Regions from separate parts of the Homo sapiens genome. Here all the other regions are linked to region 3. Evidence: fine-mapped expression QTL. A gene starts in region 3. Each other region holds a variant in brackets. All regions are shown on one strand. Distances are between the middles of the regions.

Region 1 (5,000 bases), 210 kb before region 3:
TATACTTACATTTTATGCTTTAAAAGGTAAGGCTTCATGTATTTATGTAATGCATCACATATTTTCTACCCCACTTACACATACAGACACACACACACACAGAGAGTAAGTTAAACCTGATTTTAAATATGTTTAGTTTTCTCATCTAAACACAATTTCCTGTAAACTAAAGGTCGACAATATTTTTAGTCAAATTTTTTTTTGCTAAGTTGAAAATCCACGTAAACATTGCTTTAAATAAATGAATAGAATTTATATTTACATAGTGTTTTTTTTTAGGTGCCCAAGTAGACATAAAAGATAATTTTGGACGTAATTTTCTGCATTTAACTGTACAGCAACCTTATGGATTAAAAAATCTGCGACCTGAATTTATGCAGGTAATGTATATCTGTGGATTGCCATTAACTGAGTTGGGTTCAACAGAAAATAAACTAATTTTGTTTATTATAATTTTTGTTATTATATAAACTGATTCTGGAATTTTAAAAATGTTTTAAAATAAAGATGACATATTTGACTATTTAGTTACAACATGGTGATGGTGGTGGTGGTGATGATTATGACAATGATAATTAATTGTAGTGAGACTGAGTTTTTTAACTTACAAAGAAACTTAATATGCAGTCATCTATGATAAAGATAACATCCTTAATTAGTTTGATTTTCTTCATTCTTTGACCATTATGATTTGCATATCAGTGGAAAAGCCAAATATAAGAATGAATTATCAATACTCCACCATCAATTAAGAAAAATTACTCAGCATACTTGACTTTCTGAGGAGAGGTTGAAAGCATTATTTTTATATTTATATTCACCAGCTAATACTTACTGAGTGACTAGCACATGTATGTGAAATACATCATATTTTTATCATCAATAGATTTCAATATTGCCAGTATTTAATAATCAAAATATATATGTGTTTGAATATTTAAAAAATAACAAAATATTAATTGATAGGCTTAAGCTTCTCATTTATCATTCATTTTTTATTTACTATACATATAAAACATAAAATAAACCTAATGTTTACATCCCATCCATTTTACCTAACAGAACATATTAACATGAAGCTGTTGGGTGTTATTTGGGGGTGGGAGGAAATAAGAGGAGGGGCAGAGGGAAGGGCCATGATCAAATATATTTGAAAAATGCTGAGTTAAAAATGTTAAGTACATTTTCCTATTGGCATGATCTCTCAGATCCTTTAATACAGTAATGTACACTAATATGGTAATGTACACTAAATGAAGACAGAGCATTCAACTTCATTCATATTTATATTACTCTCAAATCCTTTAGGTTATTTACAATTTTGGCCCCAAGGAATACATATTGACCCTTGTTGGAAAATATTTTCCTACAGAATAGTTTGAAAACCATCATATTAGCATAATAGCAGAGTTATTTGTATGATATTAATTTTTTCCTATAGATGCAACAGATCAAAGAGCTGGTAATGGATGAAGACAACGATGGGTGTACTCCTCTACATTATGCATGTAGACAGGGGGGCCCTGGTTCTGTAAATAACCTACTTGGCTTTAATGTGTCCATTCATTCCAAAAGCAAAGATAAGAAATCACCTCTGCATTTTGCAGCCAGGTAAGGGTCAGTCTAGCAATGTATGAACATGTCTTCTTTCTGTTTAATATTTGCCTTGAAAATATGAAACCTAATTTTTTCCAAGTTATGGGCGTATCAATACCTGTCAGAGGCTCCTACAAGACATAAGTGATACGAGGCTTCTGAATGAAGGTGACCTTCATGGAATGACTCCTCTCCATCTGGCAGCAAAGAATGGACATGATAAAGTAGTTCAGCTTCTTCTGAAAAAAGGTGCATTGTTTCTCAGGTGAGGATATATGATTGGAGTGTTTATATAATTTCTTTAATTAGCCATTTTCAGGCTATCTTTTCATTATATTTTTAATTATGAGGTCTAACTTTATATCTCACTAAGTACTTTTATCCAATTTATTTTTTCATCAAAACATATGTAACTTCTAAAAATACTGAAAGGGAAGTCAGTATTATTTCCAACTGACAAAGACTTTGAAGTTTATAGCGTTGAAGAACCTTGTTCAAGAATATTCTGTTCACAGAATAATTGGCTTTGTGCAGTCTTTCTCAGAACCTTTCTTTGAAACATAGTTTCTCATATTTTACCTCATCATGCTGCCATATTCCTATATAGATACAAAACTGTGGTTGTGTATGTGTGTATGCACGTACACACACACACAAAACATACAAGTTCAAATACTCTACTTTTCATTCAATCTGATGAATGGTAGGCATAAAAAGTTCCCTTTAAGTGACAACAGGAGATGGTAAAAATTTCTGAATTTTATTATACTTAAATGAACTCAAGTACAAGAAACAAAGTTAAAATATGTAAGTATAATAAAATATGTGGCATAATTAAATGATATTGTGATAAGAAAGAAAAAACCTGGAAATGTTTTACAGAGGTTTTTCATTTGATATCTTACCATAGCAGTAGCAAAGAGCTTATTAGGCTAATGTTCAAAAACACATTTCCTTACCATAATATTGATGCCAGCAAATTGGTGCTACAGCTACATGAATGAATGTTTTGCTCAGTTTTTTCTGGTTTACAAAGAAACACCAAGCAACTGACCTGCAAAGGGGACCGAAGTAGACCCAGGCCAGACAGTTGTTGCTTAATTACATCATAACTGAAATAGCAACATGGCTCTTGCACCCTAAAACATCTGCTCACTAGCACTGAAATTAAATAGTGTCAAGAATTTTTTTCTGTCTAATTTGAAAAAAGATAGCTAATATGACAAGGCTTTGTTGTATTTACATCTTGAATTTCTGTGGAAAAGGATAAACATTTTTCAAAGCAATTGAGTAAGCATTTTTCAGAGCACAAGAGGGAAGCTTTTTAGATTTAAACTCTTAGAATAATAACTGACACTAAGCTAAGCATCTTATAGCCATGTA[T/C]CATATTACTAGTAGTATTACCAATAACTATTGACCACAAAGACTAACATTACTTCATAAAAAAATTTTGATACAGTGTTCATTGAAAGAATAAAACAAGATTTAAATTGATGTGTATCAGTTCATTATAGCTTTAAAAAAATTAGGTATGACACAGACATGCTAAGCGTACTTCTCCTACCCCAAAGTGTTTGGTAATGTGTTTATATACTTTCATATTTTAAACCACTAAGTAAAAAACGTGTATGAATCACATTAGAAATAGGTCATTTAAGATCATTGAGCTTGGAATTAGCTCATTTATTATAAATGTTTTATAAATATTTAGTTGCCAGATCTCAATAATGCTTTTTGTTGTCATCAGATTTACCTAGAATAAGCCAAGTGGCATCCCATCCCGCATTTCATCTGTTAAGTGTATGCACACATCTTTTCTTAACTCTTTACCAGTGACCACAATGGCTGGACAGCTTTGCATCATGCGTCCATGGGCGGGTACACTCAGACCATGAAGGTCATTCTTGATACTAATTTGAAGTGCACAGATCGCCTGGATGAAGACGGGGTATGTACTGCGGTCCTCATGCTTACCCAAAATCTCAATATAGCAGAAACTTCCAACATTGCCAGAAAACTCTCCTAGACACCTTTTACCTTCCTTGCTCTATTCCCAGCCTTTTGTTGGGTGTTTAGCAAGTGGATTCTTGAGGTGAAGTATGAATCAAAAGGCAACAGAATTGGGAGAATACCAAGGGGTGGGTGAATGTTGGGGAAACCTCCAGTCTCACAGAGCAGCGAGGTCCACAGGCCAATGAAATTTGATGGTAAAGCGTTTACTCCCTGGTAGGTCCAGAGAAATGAAGGCAGGGGTGAGTTTTCATTAAGATAAGTGTTATTTTGAAGTGTATTGATTTGAAATGCTGCCCTTTATTGTGCTATTATGTCTTTCCTTCCTTTGGGGAGAGTAACTTTTGAAATGTACGTTTGTTCATAAAATGATGGGGATAGAAGACTGTTGTTGCCTTTTTCAAAAAAAAAAAGTCTTTAAGTGGAGAAACTAAAAATGGGCAAACTTATAACAGTCTCTGATTTTAAAAAACATTTACAAGCTTGTGAAGCCCCAAATCTGTAAGCCACTGTTCTACAAATGATCAATCTCAGGAGGATTTTCTTCTGTGTTCAACCCAACATCTTTACCCTGAAAGCTTGTCCTTTGTCCTTGTGGAATCATCCCATTGCAAAAGCAACACAAAACAAATGCCTTGGAATTCATTCTCTCTCTCTCTCTCTCTCTCTCTCTCTCTCTCTCTTTCTCTATCTCTCACACACACACACACACACACACACACACAGATCCACTTCCCACACATGCACACACACCATGCTAGAACTATAAACTCATTATTTTGAAGCTTGATTCTGAACACCAGTTTTAAGTGCTATGTATTTTGGTATTAAATAGTGTCGCTAATGTCTTTTAAGCAGTTAAGCAGTGAAATAAGACAGATTAGACACTGTCACCACGTTTTCTGTGTCTGTTTTTCTTCAAAAGAACACTGCACTTCACTTTGCTGCAAGGGAAGGCCACGCCAAAGCCGTTGCGCTTCTTCTGAGCCACAATGCTGACATAGTCCTGAACAAGCAGCAGGCCTCCTTTTTGCACCTTGCACTTCACAATAAGAGGAAGGAGGTTGTTCTTACGATCATCAGGAGCAAAAGGTACACTGTCTTCCTGTCCACTGTCATTTAGTGTTCTCTGGTGTTGGGATGATTTGAAGTCTGAGACAAAATAAGAGAAAAGAAATGATTTTCAGCCATTAATCAAAATTTAAAATATCAGTTGTTTACATCAATTTTTTAAAGGTTTTTTATTTTTTATTTTTATTTATTTATTTTTAGAAAAGGTCTAGCTCTGTCGCACAGGCTGGAGTGCAGTGGTGTGATCTCTGTTCACTGCAACCTCCGCCTCCCGGGCTTCAGCAATTCTCATGCCTCAGCCTCCTGAGTAGCTGGGACTATAG
Region 2 (11,277 bases), 170 kb before region 3:
CTACAGCGACATTAACCTATGCTTCTGCTCCTCTTTCTATTGAGATTTAATATCGCAAGTCCAAAGGCAGATGGTGGCACTTATTTAAAAAGTTTCCATTTCAATCGCTTCAGATAATACAGGCTGCCAATAAATAGATGCACAAAACAGGTGTATGAAGTGGTATGGTAGTCCTCCGTTATCCCTAGTTTCTCTTTCTAAAGTTTCAGTTATCAGCGGTCTACCACGATCAGAAAATAGGTGAGTACAGTACAATAAGATATTTTGACAGTAAGGGACTACAGTCACATAAATTTAGTATATTGTTATATAATTGCCCTATTTTATTATTAGTTGTTATTATTATTTCTTTTTGTGCCGGATTTGTAAACTAAACTTTATTATAAGTATGTATGTATGTATGTATGTATGTGAGAAAACATAGTATATATATATACACACACACACACACACATACATATATAGGGTTCGGTGCTATTCATGCTTTCAGGCATCCACTAGGGGTCTTGGAACGTATCCCCCCACAGAAAAGGGAGGAACACTATACTTTTATGTGAATCAGAAATACTTAATAGCTTAAATAAGACATAATCCGCTCTCCAGAACCAAGTCTGAAAAAAATAAGTATTGAGGGAGAAAACTCTCAGAAGAGACAGTTATCAGTGGTAATTTAGGTTGTTTTAAAAATTCATGGAGAAGAGGATGAAGAAGACGGAGATTATCACTCATGGGCAGCATGTCTGTGCTTGTGTCAGTACCAGCAAAACCTGAAAGGAAAACTTCACCTGCACCTTCTAAACTTGCAACAATCTAATTTGAAGCAATATCAAGGCTCAGGAATCTATTAGAATGACAACCAGCTTCTACAGCCCCACAGGAACAGTTACTCCCAAACTCAGATTTCTCAACAAACATTACTGCAGGCATATTCCAGAGGCAAAGCAGGGATCCTCAGTTAAGGTCTTTCACAAAAGGGAAAAATATGAGGAAAAGTCAAATGGCTCAACAAAGGCAGTTTGTTTTTCTGTCTACAAGTCAACTCAGTAATGGCAAACCCCCTGTAAATCAGTGGAGATCCATATGCCTTGCAGATGCAGATCATTAATTCTGAAGGAACCAAAACTGTCTAAGGCCAGGGGAAGTGGCTCATGTCTATGATCCCAACACTTTGGGAGACCACGGTGGGAGGATTGCTTGAGTCCTGGGGTTCGAGACCAGTCTGGGCAATACAGTGAGACCCCATATCTACAAAAATTTTAAAAATAGCCTGTCATGGTGGCAGGCACCTGTAGTCCCAGCTACTCAACAGGCTGAAATAGGAGGATCACTTGAACTCAGCGGGGTCAAGGCTTCAGTGAGCCGTTATTGCACCACTGCACTCCAGCCTGGACAACAGAGCAAGTCCCTGTCTCAAAAATAAAAAAGAAAAAGAAAAAAAACTGTCTAAAGAATTCATAATCGAAATAATCCAGAAGTTGAGGTTCAAGACTGCAGGTATCTGTACTTTCAGGATACCACAGGCAGACACAACATCTTTCATAATCCGATAAACCTCCAAGCATCAAGTTTTCTGTGATGTTGTATGGTGTCCACAGTCCTTGAGATACAGGTTAGGTAGTGCAAATAACTAAAACCAGTAAGCCAGACTGCAGTCTTCAGCAAGGGACTTAAAGTCTCTTCTACTGCAGCAGTCTCTTCTACCCCAGCAGTTGATCAGCAAGCATCTTCATGACCCAGATGGTTGCCTTTCAAATTCTGAGTGTGGTAAAAGAAACCAGAAAACTCTTGGAGAGCTGTAATACTGAATTGTAAACATGTGTGCATTTATCACCATCCTGTATCACTTTGAAAACTTTCCCAATTATAAATATGCTAAAATCACCCAAATTTAAATAAGATGGAGGATTTATTAAATCAAATAGTCTTTTTACTTGTCGCAGGGCAAATGCTGAAAGTGGGACTCACCCCAGGAGGCCACGTGGGTTTTTGGCTTTCTGCAGGAAAAAATTCAAGAGCAAGCCAATAGAGTAAAGTGAAAGCAAGTTTATTAAAAAGTAAAGGAATAAAAGAGTGGTTACTCTATAGGCAGTGCAGCCCTAAGGGCTGCTGATTGGCTATTTTTATGGTTATTTCTTGATCATATGATAAATAAGGGGTGGATTATTCATGAGTTTCCTGAGAAAGGAGCAGGGGATTCCCAGAACTGAGGGCTCCTCCCACTGAAAGACCATATAGGTTAACTTCCAGATGTTACCATGGCATTTGTAAACTGTTGTGACACCAGTGGGCTCTTCCTTTAGTATGCTAATGTATTATAATTAGCATATAATGAGCAGTGAGGATGACCAGAAGTCACTTTTGTTGCCATCTTGGTTTTGGCAGATTTTGGCTGGCTTCTTTATTGCATCCTGTTTTACCAGCAAGGTCTTTGTGATTCGTATCTTGTGAAACAAGTCCTGCTGAACTCCTGTCTCATTCCCAAGTATAAAACCAAGTTGTGCCCCTAAAACCTCTATAGCATCCCAGTCTAGTGGTCAGCTCTGCCATTCCTTCTCAGTTGATAAGATAATGAAATGGCCCTTCACTCATCCAAATTACTGTAAACTTAACACCCAGTGTGCAGGATCTGACTGTACCTTTTAACATCCTTTGTTTCTATGCTGCCACATGAGTCCTTGAAATGCAGAAGACACAAGCCCATAAAGGACACTGTCAGTAAATAACCAGCCAGAGGATCAGAGATTTTGAAAGTTTCCATCAATTAGTCAATGACAACGCACAGAGCTTTGTCAAACCTTTGAAATATGGAACATGTTAATTTCACAATATGAAGTAAATTGCTTATGGGACATGCTTTTTTTTGCATGCTTTTAAAGTGGTTTCTATATTTTTTAACTGTAAAGAAAAGTCAACAAGAGATAAAGCTAAGTTCTACTAAAACATTTTGAGCTATGTTTTATATTGCCATTTTAAGTCTTAGCACTTAGAATGAGAATCATCAAAATGTGGTGACTCTTTGTTAACAAAGATAATACCACGAGGGCTTCACTGATGTTCTTTGGGAGTGGAGATTCATCAAGTGGAGTATCTCGAAAAAGCTGGATTGCTGCTTTGAGTTTTCCCCAAGAAAATTCAATTATCATATGCCAGTTTGAAAACAGAATAAAGCCCCAAAGTGCCAAGTGGCTTAAAGTAGTCATTGCATTCTATTTTTTGTTAAGTTTTTCTTTAATTGGAAAAGTATTAGGGTCAATAGAGCCAAAAGGTGGGGTCGGCCTTTCAAGTTTGGCACAGTTTTGCTGCTTGGGTACAGTGTTTTTTAAAATTCAGGTTCTTAACTTCTTGGAAAAGATGAATGGGAAAGAAATCAGAATGGGGGTATTTTGATTAAATTATTTAGAATGGCAATTACAAAAATAAGTACGTGTTTTAAATGTTTTCATTTATTGTTATGATTTGCATTTAAATAATTATTTTTGGAAATAATTTTCAAGAAAAAATATATGTATATATACATAAAGTATCAGAAAATAGTAATTAGCTGCAAAATTTAAGCTTACAGGGATGAGTAAATATATTTTTACAGTCTGAAAAGCAACTATTTACAAGTGAATAGTTTATAGCAACTATTTACAAGTGAGTGTACTGAGAGTTATTACTAAAGATAACTTGAAATGTAAAATCTGGCTTTAAAAGTATATTTTAAATGACAGTATAATGTTACACAAATCAGATGGGTAAATAGCAAACTAGGATTATACACTTGAGATATGCTAATATACAGAGTTTCATCTGTTATTAACATTTTTATTAAGACAAGAAGTATTAGATACCTTCTAAACAACGAATGTATCACTGATTTAAAAAAATAACCACTTAGTCACTGAGCAGCTATCATAACCTTCAAAGGAGAAGATTTAAGGCAACACAAACAAAAATATGCTAGCTTAACCTTGCATGTAAATCTTCTGAGAGTCTGCTCTAGACAGAGGTTTCAATTCTGCACCGCCTAATGCGTGTGACCCACAGAATTCCCAGCTGGATTTAGCTTGTCTGCACTGCACTTTTAAAACAAGCTAGAAAAAGGCAAACTCCCTGTTCTTCTGGTGCCATATGTGTATATTTTGGCTATTTCAGGGTATAGGGTAATGGAAAAAAAGCACCCTTTGTTTCATTTTTCATCATAATGAGGCTCCCCATTTGACATGTATGACAATTCTACCAGATAAGACAAGACCAATACAACACAGGGCAGAAACATGAAGAAAAGAATATTTTCTAAGGTCTTCTTGGGCACTACATAGTTGTTTTATGATATTTTAAAATTTATTTTTAACTGATCATGCCCAAAGCCAAACTTTGTTACAAGAGACATCTATAAATATTTACTAATCAACGAATGTTACAACAGACAAGGAACGCAATAGCATGAATGTATTACAACACAGGGTACATGGGCAGATGTTTATGGGAAAATGACTAACCCGTTCATAAATTATCACTGTTTACATTTCAAAGCCCAAGCCAGCTGCTTTGTAATGACAGATTATATCTTCAGTATTGATCACTGACAGCTATAAAAAGTCAGGCTGTTTGGCTTTCACAGGTACGAGTGGTGAACAGAAGATGAAATACCTTATCTCATTCATTTTTCTTAGCAAGGACTCAATTCTATTCAAATTAAAGATACTGCTTCATAACATACTTGTAACTAAAAAATATAGGGTGGATAATTTCTTTTTTTAATTGTTCAGAAATCAAGAATATAATTTAAACAAAATAAGTATGTATTAGTACATGGGAAAAAAGATAAAAAGAAACAAAACAGGCAATATAAGAAAAGCTTAAAAAATTAAGTAAAAGAAAACATCAAGACCTACAAAAATGCAAAAACATGAACAAGACTACACAAGTAAAATAAAATCTATGAGTTCTGACAACCAATCTAAACTTCAGTAAAAAACACAATACTTCCTTTCTGGGTTAAAAAAATGTAATCGCTAGAGAATAATCTAAACTAGTATTATAGAAAGATGAACAAATAAATATACAAATATAAAGAGCAGGAGTGACAAAATGAACTTAACCCAAAGAATGCAAGGGAAAAAATATAAAATTAGGCAAAATTATTGCTTTACACGGACAAAGATTTGACCTACAAGGAAGTCATGAGTTATTAACCTTTTTGCTTTCAATAAGTTACCAAAATATGTCGAGTTATAATTAGTAGAAGTGAATCATTGATGAATATATTGTTGGAGAGTCTTATAACACCTCCATTAGCCTAATCCCAGCTCCACACTTAGGAACTGTGTGACCCGCAAAGGTTATTAGAACACTGTTGCCAAGGAACTAGGAGAGAAGAGTCTGCTAGGACAAGGCACCAGCAGAGAACAGCCACTGCTGGAGAAACACAGGTACCCAAGCTAAGTTTCCAGGTCAAAGCAGGGACCAGATGAAGTCAGGAAGATCAGTCTGTAAAAGATAC[G/C]AGCATTTCTGAAGCCTTTAAATAGCTGAATACATTGTATAGCGTTACTTCCTCACCTGACCCAGGTTAACCTCTTTTTATGTCAGTCCCCATTTTTCCCTTCCAATTTCTAACATTCATATTCCATTTTGAATAATTAAAAAGTTTTTTAAAAAATTAGTAACTCATGGAACTTGAGTTTGTGGATAGAGAAGGAAAACAATAACTAAGTCTGAACCAATAGTGGGCCTTGCCCTCTTCTCCTTGAACCTAGGTTTTAATGACAAAAATGAAGCTATTTTGGTCCACAAAGCAATCAAGGGTCCCTTTAGCCATCTCTGTGTCCCTTCACTAATTAATTCACCACCTAGACTTCAGCTGAAAAGACCTGCCCTACTCCAGCTATTTAGTTTAGCTCTATGTTCCTTCATTACTTGCTCATCATATGGGGGTTTGTCCCTTATTTCCTCACCCCTCTGAACAACATGCTTCTTTAACAGCTGGTCCTGAGGGTCAATAGGGTGTTTTAGTGTTCTCATTTGGTCTTTCAATAAGATGCCATTTCTTCTTGACTCTTGTATGTTCTAGTGCCTTGCTATTCAAGGTGTGGCCTGTGGGCCAGCAGCATGGGCACCCTCTGAGAGCCTGTTAGACATACAAGATCTCTGGCCAGTCATGGTGGTTCACGCCTGTAATCCCAGAGCTTTGGGAGGCCGAAGCAGGTGGATTGCCTTGAGTTGAGGAGTTCAAGATCAGACTGGGCAACAAAGCAAGACCCCGTCTCCACAAAAAAATTAAAAAATTAGCTAGGTGTGGTGGCATGCACCTGTAGTCCCAGCTACCTGGGAGGTTGAGGTGGGATGATCATCTGATCCACGGAGTTTGAGGATCCAGTGAGCTGTGATCATGCCACTGAACCTCAGCCTGGATGACAGAGTGAGACCTTGTTTCAAATAAAAGAAGAAAAAAGAAGATGAAATGTAGGATCTCAGGTCCCTGCCCTAGGCACTCTTCCCTCCTAAATCAGAATTTGCATTTTAGTAAGTTCCCTTGGCAATTCATATGCAAGTTAAGGTCTGAAAAGTACTACCTAATGAAGTTTCACACTAACACTGCTGGATGCTTCATTTAAAATCAATCAAGTGGCCGGCGCAGTGGCTCACGCCTGTAATCCCAGCACTTTGGGAGGCTGAGGCGGGCGGATCACAAGATCAGGAGATCGAGACCATCCTGGCTAACACGGTGAAACCTCATCTCTACTAAAAATACAAAAAATTAGCCGGGCGTGGTAGCAGGCAACTGTAGTCCCAGCTACTCAGGAGGCCGAGGCAGGAGAATGGCGTCAACCCGGGAGGCGGAGCTTGCAGTGAGCTGAGATCAGACCACTGCACTCCAGCCTGGGCAACAGAGCAAGATTCTGTCTAAAAAAAAAAAAAAAAAATCAATCAAGCAAACTATAGTCAAAAATAGAAAATGCTGCATACTTTAACTATCTCCACTACCTCCTGTGTTCACAATGCACATTGGCTTAATAAGGCTCTGAGAAAACTTGTAGTAAGTAAACCAATTTTTTTTTTTTTTACTTCACTATTTTCCAAACTTATATATCCACGGGTCCCCTGGCACATAATAACTATTAACATCCTTCAGGATTTATGATCTATGGAACACATTTTGAGAAACACTGGTGTAATGGACATATTTGATGAAAGGAAGCAAATGACTAATTAGACACTTCTTTGCATTGCAGTTTCTTCATCGATGCAATAGAGGTAAAATAGGACCTATCCATCTCAAAGCGTAGCTTTGAGAAGAAAAGGAAGTGGATGTCAAAACCTTTTGAAAATGCAAGTGTTTGGGATACTTTCATTCATTTATTTTTTCACTTAACAAATACTTATGAGTGCTTACTCTGTCCCAGGCCTGTGCCATGTGTGGGGGCTACAGCAGTGAGAAAAGCTCCTGCTTTCACGGAGCCAAAAATCAATCCGAGTGAATTAAGGATTCAGATTTATAGACCACAAATGTAGGCAGTGATTCCCAAGAGGTAAAACATTGCTAAGAGTCCCATCAGTGTTATTTTAATTCAAAATGATTTATTTAACTAGAAGAAGGCCTTCTCAAAACCATAAGGGAGCAGGAGTACCTACTGAGTAATAATAATGTTAAGATTTATACAGAACTTACGGATGTCATCTAACCAACGGTGTGCTGGCAAGCTAGCCCCTGTTGTATAGTATTTGCAAATATCTGTAGTGTAAATATTCTCACCATGGCCAATTAATTTCAAACTACCAATATGATGTCACTGGATGTGAGGATGGGAAGATTGGCAGAATCAGAAAAAAGGTGTACTATTGGTCATTGTGAGCCAGTACAAACCAACTGCAGTACATCATGGCATGGACCATTCTAAACATTTCACATAAAATAAATCATAACTACCCTATAAGAGAGTAACTAGCATCTTCCCTATTTTATAGATGAGGAAATTGAAGCTCAAAAAGATTACATAACTCTTCCAAACCAAGCAACTAGGAAAGGAGGTGATATGGTTTGGCTGTGTCCCCACCCACATCTCATCTTGAATCCCCACATGTTGTGGGTGGAAGGGACCCAGTGGGAGATAGTTGAATCATGGGGGCAGTTTTCCACATACTGTTCTCATGGTAGTGAATAAGTCTCACAAGATCTGATGGTTTCATAAGGGGAAATCCATTTTGCTTGGCTCTCATACTTTCTGTCTGCTGCCATCCACGTAAGATGTGACTTGCTCCTTCTTGCCTTCCACCATGATTGTGAGGCTTCCCCAGTGAAGTGGAACTGTAAGTCCAATTAAAACCCTTTATTTTGTAAATTACCCAGTCTTGGGTATGGCTTCATCAACAGCATGAAAACAGACTAATACAGGAGGCTAGCATTTGAACTTAGAGACATATGACTCTAGAGACCTATCCTCAAACACTATGGCCCAGTACTTACTAAGCTTGCCACTGGCAAGCTGTGAGGTAATCCCAAAGGTTAGTGTCAGCCAAATCCACCTCATTCACTTATTCATTCAATAAGCAACCAAGAATACTCAAGGATAGTGAATATGCTTTGGATGAGATGCTTACAATTGCTTCACTGGGGTGAAAATATTCTATTTGGACAGTAAAATAAACTCAGTATTTGGATTTGGCTCACACACTTCTCTGTGACAGAGCTTCATTTTCATAGGACAGCCACAACAAAATTCCCTTATTTTGGCATTCCAGAGAAACTGACATTTGGCCACACTGCTAAAATTGATAGACTGAGAAATTATGACAGAAGTTCAGATGGGTACATGGATATGTGTATGTAGTTTCTGCTGTCTGAATGGTGTGAAAATTGCCCTAGATTAAGCTAAGGTTATTCTAGTCAGCCTTTAATTGGCTAAGATTGTATATTGGTTTGCTAAGGCTAGAAAATAAATAACAGACATTTATTGTCTCAGAGTTCTAGAGGCTTGCCAAGATGTCAGCAGGCTTGATTCCTTCTCAGAGCTGTGAGAGAGAATCTGCTCCAAACCTCGTTCCTAGCTTCTTGTGATTTGCTGGCGATCTTTGCCGTTTCTTTGTTTATAGAGGAATCACCTGGATCCATGCCTTCATCTACACAGCATTCTGTGTGTGTGTGTTTGTGTGTGTGTGTGTGTGTCCCTGTGCGTGTGTCTGCCTTTGTACCCCAATTTCCCCTTTTTATAAGAAGAGCAGTCATATTGGATTAGAGACCACTTTAATGACCTCATCTTAACTGTTAATAATTACATCTGCAATGACCCTATTTCCAAGTAAAGTCACATTCTGAAGTACCTTGGGTTAATGCTTCAACCTAAGAATTTTGGGGGAAGGAGGGGAATGCAATAAAAGATCTGTCTCCAAAAGCAAAACTCAAAATAACTATGCTTTAAAAAATAATACAAACAAAAAGTTTATTTATCTCTATAAACAAAGTCTAAAAGTGAGTCCTACTAGACTAATAGGCTAATACGGCAACTCTGTTCCACATAATCCTATCACCCTACTATCCAGGCAAGTAGTCCTTGTCCTCAGGATTCAAAATGCAAGCATCCATGTTCCAGGCTGTGGATTAAAGGAAGGGACAGGAAAAAGAGGTACACCAGCTGTCTCTTAAAGAAGGCTCCTGCAATCTACACATCATCATTTACTTATATGCCATTACCTGAATTTAATAAAGTGGCCACATTTTTCTTTAAGAGACACTGGGAAATATCATTCTAATTCCATGCAGGTGTGTGCCCAGATAAACATTCTGTTATTTAGAGAAATGGGCCAATAGATGTTGGCAGTCAACCAACAATCTCTACCACAGAGAATAAGAAAAAATACAAAATTACACTACCTGTGTATAGAGGGCCAGCTCTAAAGGGGGAGGCCATTTCTGATGTCAGTGACCTCACCTAACAGGGAATGTTTGAGTCTTAGAGCAGAAGCATTTCCTGGGAGAGTGGGCTTTAGCTAAAAGACAGAGAGGACTTGGCCCAATCTGGTCTCTGAAAGGCACAACTGTCCACAATGGCTTGCAAGAAGTGAACTGTTAAATAGAAAGAGCAGTCTTAAAGAAGTAGAGTAGAAACTAGTTAATGACATATTTTAGGTAAGGTCTTATTTTTCTTTCTGGAAATCCATGGGGAATGGGATCACATTTGAAACTTCATAGAGAGCAAGCACGTTTTTAAAATAAGCCAAATATTCGGTTTTATGGCACTCTGTATGTTTATTTCTCTCTTTCCTCACTAATTTCCTATAGCTTCTTTTTGAATCTGTTATTCCTTTTCAGCTGTGTGATAGTTATCGAGTCAAGGGATTTTGCTCATGCTTAGTTAAAAATATTTAAATGATGAAACAGAGCCCATCAAGGCCAGCATCATAGGGATAGTGGTAATTATTATACTCTAATTGCAGATTTGATACTGCATGGTCCATTACCCCCTTCTTTCCTCCTAGTAGAACCTCCTGTAGAGTGAACTTTGGAAGTTTGAAGTGTGTGTGGGTGTTTTATTAAAGAGGGCCACTTTACCTGACTGTGAGCTAATGGCTTCCAAAGTCTACTGCACACACATTCATTCCCAGAGCTCTCTCTCCATTTCACCTCTGACCCTCTGCTCAATTCAGTAGCTGCTGGTCCATGGCTACCACCACATTTAATCAAAAGGGGCTAGTTAGTAGCTTTCTCCCTGCCCTGATAACCTCAGAATTAACTCTTAAAAGAAAAAGAAAGAAAGATACATGGAAACTTGCACAATTTCCAAAAATGTAACAATCAGCCCTTGCGCTGGTATAGAAAGGGCCAGCATGCCAATGATAGCTGAACTAATAGATAACATTACAAAAAGATTTACTCCAGATTCTAGGAGTTGCATCAAAATCCAGTCTGAAGTGGAACTTTCTGCTCAGAAACTGATGCATCTAGTCCTATGAAATTCTGCTGTCTGAAGGAAAAGACCATGGACAGAGTGCTGGCACCAGTGATGGCAGTCCAGGAAAGATGAGCAAAGTATGAGTTGAGAGCCTGAACCACAGGTTGTGCCTGGCTGGGCAGGAAACACATGAGTTTTCAGAATACAGACATCACATCATAAGACTAGATGTGTAAGAGGCAGAGTTTGTTTGCCTGACTTTAATCTGACTACATAGAGCTGGACAAGGAATTTACAAAAACAAAATAATATGAAAAAATCCATCCATCAGTTTAACACTAGATGGCACTGAATGATAATAATTTGGAAATAGGCCTTCAGTGTCATTAATAATGGCATTATGGAT
Region 3 (8,044 bases):
GCCCCATTTTTCATTGTTTATTTGTTAAGCCTGGCTTTTCCACCTTCAACCTCCACAAACCATCCAGGCACTGGCTTCTCCATGCTAAGGCCTCATGACTTTCGGAGGGAAGGGTAAAAAATCTTGCTGCAATCCTTAGATAAATAAACCAGCAGCAGAGGCCTGTTTGTGTTGTGGATGACAAAGGACTCCACATGTAGGCTTTGACTATTTCCATGGATGCCCAACCTGATGGCTGGTAGAGCCCGGGTGAAGGGAGTTTTCTTCCTTTCCTGGTCTGAAGAGTGGTGGCATCCTGCACAACACCAGGACAGAGGCTGCCCTGAGCCTGGAGCAGAGCCCAAGGCTTTGTGCAGACAAGGGACAGGCCTTGGGTTATCCAGACCTAACCCTGGGTCTTACACGTGACCTGTCCCCACCTGACTGGCTCCCCATGTGACTAGCATGCCACGTGGCCAACACACACTGGGACTAGCATTCCATGTGACTAACACACCACTGAGGAGGAGCGTTCATTTTCCCAGCACGTGTGTGTGTCTGGTGGGGTGTGTTATAGACAGGAGGTTGAATACACGTGGTAAGACGCAGTCTGGATAATACAGAGAAGCTTATTTCCACAAGAATGTGCCCTCCCAGTGGGTGAGAGTGGGTCTCACCAACACCTTGCCACAACCAACAGTAGATACTCAGTCCATAGGGGTATAGTTAATCCATGAGATTAATCCCTGAGTTGTCCAATAGAAATATAATGGGACCGGTATATTTAATTCTACATTTTTAGTAACCATATGATAATAATTTTAAATGGTGAAATTAATTTTTGTAATATATTTCATTTAACCTAATAGATCCAAAATGTCCTCACAGATTGACATAAATTTATATTTTAAAATATTAATGAGAGCTTTTATATTCTTTTATTCATAGTAAGTTTTCAATACTGGTTATGCATTTTACACTATAGTACCTGAATAGCCACATTTCAAGTGCTCAATAGCCTAATGTGGCTAATGGCTTCCATATTGGCCAGTGCTGATCTAGATTATTCATTTTCCTAGATCAAAAGTATAGGCAATTGGCCGAAGGTATGGCAATTCCTCCAGGCAACAGGAGGCTGTGGGTTGGTCCCACTGCTGTTTCTTAAGTACCTACTCACTACATAGTTTTGGCATGGCCTTCACAGAGGACAGAGGAAGCCTTTGCTCTTCCTGAGTCCTAAGTCCACATGACCTACCCAGTTCTAGAGTTTCTCACCCATTACTTAATATGCTGTTGGAGGAAGGAAGTGGCAACAAATGGCCTTTTTTCTATGATGTGTAATTATCATCCCATCTCATGGCTCCCTTTTTAAAAAACAAACCAAGCCTGCATTGTTAAATGTTTCAATCTGTTAGGCACTGATCTGTGTTCCACCTGGGCATGCTCCTTTGACCTACACCACACCACCAGCAGGATTTCTGGCTTAATCCTTTATGCCAGTAGGGAAAGTAAGGCTTGGAAAAGCACTGCAATTTTAGGGTGAGAGAATTTGGGGGACGAAAAGAAAATTTCTAACGACGTCCCATCCATTTTTCCCTCAGTGAAGTCCCTCATGGGACCTGTGAAAAATGTCATGTGATGAGACCATGTACTTCAGACCCTAGCAGCCTGTAGTCAAAGCAAATGAAAGACCCTGGTACTATCTGAAACCCAGAATAGGCCCTGGAGTACAAAACTTGGGTCAGGTCATTGCCCTAACTTTTACTAGCTGTGTGATATTGGGCAAGGCAATTCATAATACTAACTAGCATTTACTGATCTTCTCCCATGTACCAGGCTCTGACCTAGCCAACTGCTCATATACTTTCTCTTCCGCTCAGAGAGATAATCCATTTTATAGATTAGAAAACTAGGGCTCAAAAAATGCAAATTCCAGAAGTCATATATCCAGCAAGCACGGAAGCCAGGATGAAGAAATATTAAAGGTAATATTAAAAGAATTATTAAATATTTTGTTTTATAATGCAACTTAAGCCCTACTCACCCCATTGAATATTTTTTAAATGTCACTAAAGAATTTCAAGACCATTGATGTACACACAAACAGTCTATACCTGTTTCACATCTAAGAGTTTGTAAAGCATAAGCAAATAGGAATTGATTTCAGTGTGTTTATAAGATAAAAATAAAGGCTGTATTATTCATTTCAGTATGTCACTTGTCAAAACCATGAAAAACACTGGGCTTTCAAAAGAGAGAGTTATACTTACACTGTTCAGCTCGAGAAGCTGTTGTAATCATCCAAGGAGAAGAAAAAGTAATAGCACTTTGAAAGTGGAAGGAGGTGACCAAATGCCAGATATTACAAACATGTTAAAGCAAACTGCAGTTATATGCTTATAAAAAATGCATATAAGGTACATTTCCTAACCTTCATTACCAGTCTGCAACTTGAAAACAGAGTTACAAGTGAAAATATAACTTAATTTCACAAAAATGAAAGAAATGGAGGTTAAATGAAAGATGATGAAACAAACAAAATAAAATAGCTGACTTTCTTGAAAGCGAACAGAGGGAGGGTGAGGAGATGGAGTAGAAGAGAAAGGGAGGGAAGTAGGGAGGGAGGGGAAGACAGAGAAAGAAGACAGGGAGGGAAAGGCGAGTGCTGTGAAAAATAAGCCCGAACTGGTGGGGTCAGACCATTTCTTCAAGAAATAAAGAAACTGGCCATGACCTCCTCAGCGTTGAGGCTGGGTATAGTTTTTGTGACTGTTTAGAGAAATCTAGCGCTCTCCTCACCATTAATCTTTTCTAAAGAAAGACTTTGTTCTGCACCTGTATAAACAATTCAGATTTTAAAAACCTATTCGCCTGCCCCTAATGTGTGAGACTATATATTTATACTGATAGCTTCAAGTCATCAATAGTCGTTGCAGAGAGCTAGCCTGGCTCTCCTCGGTCCATCTCTTTGCCCCTCTTTGTCGCTCTCCTCTCCTTCACCTGGCAAGGCGATCCTAGAGTCAAGTTCAAGTTCAAACGCTCCAGGAAAGATTTCTACACTCTGTCAAATATTCCCTGCATTTCCCTACCCTAGAGAGAGCTGAGGGCAAATGATCTTTTTATTCACATTGTCCCAGAACCAGCCCACCCCCTGCCCCCAACCAAAAGACAACTTGTACAGGGAGAAAACCTTTGCAAATGTGGGTGAGCCGGAGGGGTTATGTGAAACATTCCCCCGGCCCCAAAACGCCCCTGCTAAGGGTAGCGTGGCCTGGGAGACTAAGGTGGAATGATGCCTGAGTGATGAAGTCAGCCTCTGCCAGCCACCTGTTGCAGCACTTCAGCCATCGAGCTGGACGCATTTGTTCTGCTGTACGAACTGGCGGGAGCCAGGCTGGCCCAGCTATCTCTGCCAGCTCTGTCCTGGACTGACTCCACATAGGTCCCCTTGCACCTTGCTCAGCTTGGGAGCCTGTGGACTTTCAGGAAAAGAACAAGTGAACACCTAAGCCTGTGTGACGACTCAGTTTCATCATTGTAAAATGGGGTAACCATATGCCAAACTCATACGGGTTTTATTACTCAGTGAGCTGCTCACAAGCCGCGAGTACAGTGACGGGCACACAGCGGGCACTCAGTCTCTGACCACTGGGGCCCGTATCCACAGACGTACTTATCCCCTGACCAGGAACTGCGATGACCTTCGAGTTAGGAAATAATGAGACTGCAAAATTGTTGTGTTTTCTTGTGTGGAAGAGCAGGATGTTTTAGTCTTGTTTGGAATGGAACATGATCATTCAGGGTGCTCCTTTGTCGTTTTTACTTTGAATGGACGATTGTGCTAACTTAGCATTCTGCTTCCAGGAGCTCGCTCTTCAATACACAATCTATTAAATACAATAGCAAGGATTCCCTACATTATAATGCAAAGCTTTAGGGCCGGATCCTCCAACACACGCATTGTGGTATTAAAACAAAATCACATCACGCATGGAACTCTCAAGATAGTGGAAAATACCAGCTACAACATCCAGTGATGTGTGACCCGGAGGCACGGAGCTGACTAGAATACCGACGGGCCAGAATTTCAAAACGCGGATTTTGAATCTTTTTTTCTACTTAGCCTAATAAGTTTGGGTCTTTTACTTAACGTCTATCTAGGCGGCTCAGCTTCAAGTTCTGCAAATTGGAGATAATATCATTAAGTTACAGATGTTATTTGAAAAGGCAACGAACCATTGTAACCATTTTTGTAAACCATGAAGGTATATTATAAGAAAAGGAGGAGGAAAATGAGAGGTAACTTGTGCATTGTTGGATGTTGTTTGCCTGTTCTGCTTTTTCTCTTGTCCAGCAAGGCTTGGGTAGACAATCATACATCATGAATGGTTAACTTGAAAACTGAGTTCTACTGGAAAGACTGGCAGGCAAGCAGAGGTCGGAATCCCGTCGTTTCTAAGTGTCTGGTAATCTTTGCCACTGCTAAGATTACCTGGGGGTAGAAGCACCGTCGGTAGGAACAAGATGTGCCCCTTCACTCCCCGAAAGCTCACTTATCCTGCGCAGACATGTTGAAGGGCCGTCGGGCTTCAGAGCCCAAATCTCGGCTCTGCAGAGACGTCCCCTTCCCCCGCCTCCACCAACCGCTCTTCGGCATGCAGAAAAGCGGTCCCCACCCCTTCCACGCCCCTGCCCCACCTCTTGGCCCCCTTTACAACCCCCTCTTCTTTGCCCGGGGTGGTTTGTTCCAAGGAGTACAGATAGCCTTTTCAAAAGGCGCAGCTTACCGCGGTGCGCGCGGATTCTGGACTTGGGCGCCAACTCGTAGTCCACGCTCCCCGGGGTCAGCAGAGGGGCGCTCACGCTCTCGCCACCCACCTCGCTTTCTCACCCCGCGCTTCCCGGCCTGGGTTTTTAGTCTTCCTTGGAGCGCTCTCTGGCCTCCGCCTCCGCCAGGGAGCGGAAGGCGGAGACAGCGAGACTGGCCAGGGGGGAGGAAAGAGGACGCGTGTGGGCAAGGGGGACAACGGGATGTCCACGGGCTCGGTGAGTGATCCGGAGGAGATGGAGCTTCGGGGGCTGCAGCGGGAGTACCCGGTCCCCGCCTCCAAGAGGCCGCCCCTCCGCGGCGTAGAGCGCAGCTACGCCTCGCCCAGTGACAACTCGTCGGCAGAGGAGGAGGACCCCGACGGCGAGGAGGAGCGCTGCGCTCTGGGCACAGCCGGCAGCGCGGAAGGCTGCAAGAGGAAGCGGCCCCGTGTGGCTGGGGGCGGCGGCGCAGGTGGTAGCGCGGGCGGTGGTGGCAAGAAGCCCCTCCCGGCCAAGGGCTCAGCCGCAGAGTGCAAGCAGTCGCAGCGGAACGCGGCCAACGCCCGTGAGCGTGCCCGGATGCGCGTGCTGAGCAAAGCCTTCTCCAGGCTCAAGACCAGCCTGCCCTGGGTGCCCCCCGACACTAAGCTCTCCAAGCTGGACACGCTCCGGCTGGCTTCCAGTTACATCGCTCACCTGCGGCAGCTGTTGCAGGAGGACCGCTATGAGAACGGCTACGTGCACCCAGTGAACCTGGTAGGGGCGCGGCGCGCAAGGATTCGGGAGAGCAGCCAGGAGATACCCAGGGCGCTCCTGGGCGCCGGGCAGGGTCAGCCCGTTGGGAAGAATTCGAAAGGGGTGGAGGTTCTGGGACTGGGAACGAGAAGGCCAGTTTAGTTTCTCCCAAATCAAGGGAGTGGCCAGCCATTTCCCTGAAGAAGAATCAACCCTCCGTGTCTGTTTGCATCGTTCTGAACATTGTACCCCAGTGACAGCCATTGACTAATATCCTACTTCCAGGGTAAATCTTGGTTCCATCTCCATCTGCCACCAGGTTGCAGACTGACGGCAAATCTCCCTTGCCCAACTTAATCCAGCTGAGTCGGGCAGGTTTGAATCGGCAAGCCCTTTCTTAAAGGAGGGAAGGCCGAGCTCTATAAAAGAGCATTTGCATTTTTAGAAAAATTGCTTGTGGAAGATAGTAACGTTTCCCCAGATGGGATTTATCTGGAAAGTCCCTCTCTGATCTGCCAGCTCTCCCGGCTTGGGAAAAATCCTGTCCAAGCCCAGTTCCTACTTGGAGCTTGGAGTGGATGACTGTGTGTGTGTGTGTGTGTGTGTGTGTGTGTGCGTGTGTGTGTGTGTGTGTTGGGGAAGGGAACTAAACGACAGAACCTCAAAGTCAGATGAGTTTCACCAAATTATCCTGCGGGCAAAGTCCAGGAAGAAGCGTGAACGGATATGGCAAGTCTCGGATTATCAACCTCCAGTAAAATGAAAATCTTAGTTCAGAGAGAGGACATGCAAATTCCCAGAATGCTGATAAAATCTTAGCTACTCCAAGTCAGGAATATCTGGGGTTCGCGTAGGAGAGCTGTTTCGGTTTGAGACAATCGTTTCTCTCTAATATCTCACGTTCTTTTTGATTTACAGACATGGCCATTCGTGGTCTCGGGAAGACCGGACTCTGACACCAAAGAAGTTTCCGCAGCCAACAGACTATGTGGAACCACCGCTTAAATCGGACTGGAACTCACTTGATGGGATTATTCGTTAAATGCGAGTGTTTGGGGGCCACGGAGAGAAGGGAGAGCTCGTGAGATGGGAAGAAGTTTCCGCTGGATTCTCCTTGACCCTTCCCCTTTCCCTGGAACTGTGATCGTGACAGGTGGCGGGTGTGGCTGTCACTGCACAGCGCCCACGGCTACAGCTGCGCCGGATCTGGGCGACCACGTTTTGCCTCTCCAAAAAGAGCTTCCTTTCGTGACGAGACGCGGACGCAGGTCCACCCTCGGGCCCTAGCTCTGTAGACTAACTCTCGGCTGCTGCCCCAGCCCGCGCCAGACAGCCCACGGATCCGTTCTCAGCGGAGCCAGATTCATCGCACACGTGCGGGACGGTTCCACACAGCCCCGGCCTTTCGCGGTGACACAATGGTTAGGGAACGGTTAGAACGCGCTCTACATCCGCTTTAAAGACAGAGGTCTAGACGTGAGATCCGCGTCGGGACAGGGTTTTAAGTGACAAAGAAGGGCGAGTGGCTTCTCTGGGCCGGGTTCGTACTCCAGCACAGCGCCCTTCTAACGGGCGGGAGGAAGGCCGCTGCTCGCAGGGCTAGGTGGAGACACACTTCCCAGATCACCGCAGGCGGGTTTTACCCGGAGAGCTCTGGGCCGTTCGGCCTCCCTGCCGGGTGGCTTCTTCAATCCCGTCTCCTTCCCAAGCTCCCGGCTTTTTCTAATCAGGCAGGCGTCTGTCAACCCTCTCCACTTCTGGGCTGAAGCCTCCCCAAGCCCCGCTGCGCCAACCTGTGTGGGGTCTTCTTCGGGCCTCCCTCTCCGCCCCGCTCCTGCTCCTACCTGCAGCACCCCCAGCTCCGACTCCAGACTCTCTGCATCAGGTCTCCCCACTCCACGCTCCGGGCGCCCCAACTCCAACACCACGTCCTGCCGCGCAGGTTCTTCCCCGCGCGGAGGAGCGCGCAGGGTGGGCGGCTTACCATAGCAAGTGATCCTGCGATAGGGAACGCGCCCTTGCCCCGAGGCTGCACTACCACAGGAAATAACATATGTAAATAAATTTATTTTTTTATGAATAATAAAACGCGCTGTAAAAACCGTGTGCCCCTTGGAGGTGTCAGGATGTGGTCTTTGTTGCCCTTTACTAAGAGGGTTTGGCTGTAGAAGTTAACTTTTAAGGGCTGATCTCCTCTGGTCAGGGCGGTGGGTCATTGCGGGAGGAATGGTGGCGATCACTTTTGGATCACTCCATTTCCAAACGTCATTCTTTATTAATCTCTATGATTCTGCTGCTTCTCCGCGCCGGGCTTCCTGGAAGGCCATAACTGGAGGCCTAATAAAAGTCCTGAGTCTTGAGGCCCCTGCTGTCCTGACAGACATACACTCCTCAGGCTAACATAGGTGCACGTCTCTCATACACACACACACACACACACACAACACACACAGCAGCTACTCCAGCTAAAAGCACACTCCAATCCTTACCATTGCAAGTAGTTCAAAAAAAAACCCTAAGG

What was found. PIP is the estimated chance that this variant, and not a neighbour inherited with it, causes the effect.
Region 1: its variant is the best candidate, but not a certain one, in a credible set for the expression of MSC-AS1 in whole blood (INTERVAL, PIP 0.58).
Region 2: its variant is the best candidate, but not a certain one, in a credible set for the expression of MSC-AS1 in whole blood (TOPMed, PIP 0.79).

Annotation. Positions count from the first base shown.
Region 1 is chr8:72,052,297-72,057,296 of GRCh38, reverse strand. TRPA1 (transient receptor potential cation channel subfamily A member 1) reads left to right here. Exons shown (of 27, transcript NM_007332.3): 10 at 280-380; 11 at 1,442-1,611; 12 at 1,697-1,861; 13 at 3,430-3,544; 14 at 4,532-4,698. MSC-AS1 (MSC antisense RNA 1) reads right to left here. Exons shown (of 5, transcript NR_033652.1): 5 at 985-4,758. Among named protein-coding and RNA genes, the nearest start is that of TRPA1, 21 kb to the left of the region's middle. The variant T/C (reference allele first, on the strand shown) is at 2,980.
Region 2 is chr8:72,007,365-72,018,641 of GRCh38, reverse strand. The region is part of intron 4 of MSC-AS1 (MSC antisense RNA 1); the gene reads right to left. Among named protein-coding and RNA genes, the nearest start is that of TRPA1, 63 kb to the left of the region's middle. The variant G/C (reference allele first, on the strand shown) is at 5,489.
Region 3 is chr8:71,841,145-71,849,188 of GRCh38, reverse strand. MSC-AS1 (MSC antisense RNA 1) reads right to left here and starts at 6,066. Exons shown (of 5, transcript NR_033652.1): 1 at 5,485-6,066; 2 at 4,767-4,960. It overlaps MSC (musculin), which reads left to right and starts at 4,777. Exons shown (of 2, transcript NM_005098.4): 1 at 4,777-5,544; 2 at 6,442-7,629. The coding sequence starts at 5,011. The coding sequence ends at 6,528. RefSeq lists silencers at 3,270-3,319, 5,159-5,428 and an enhancer at 7,124-7,984.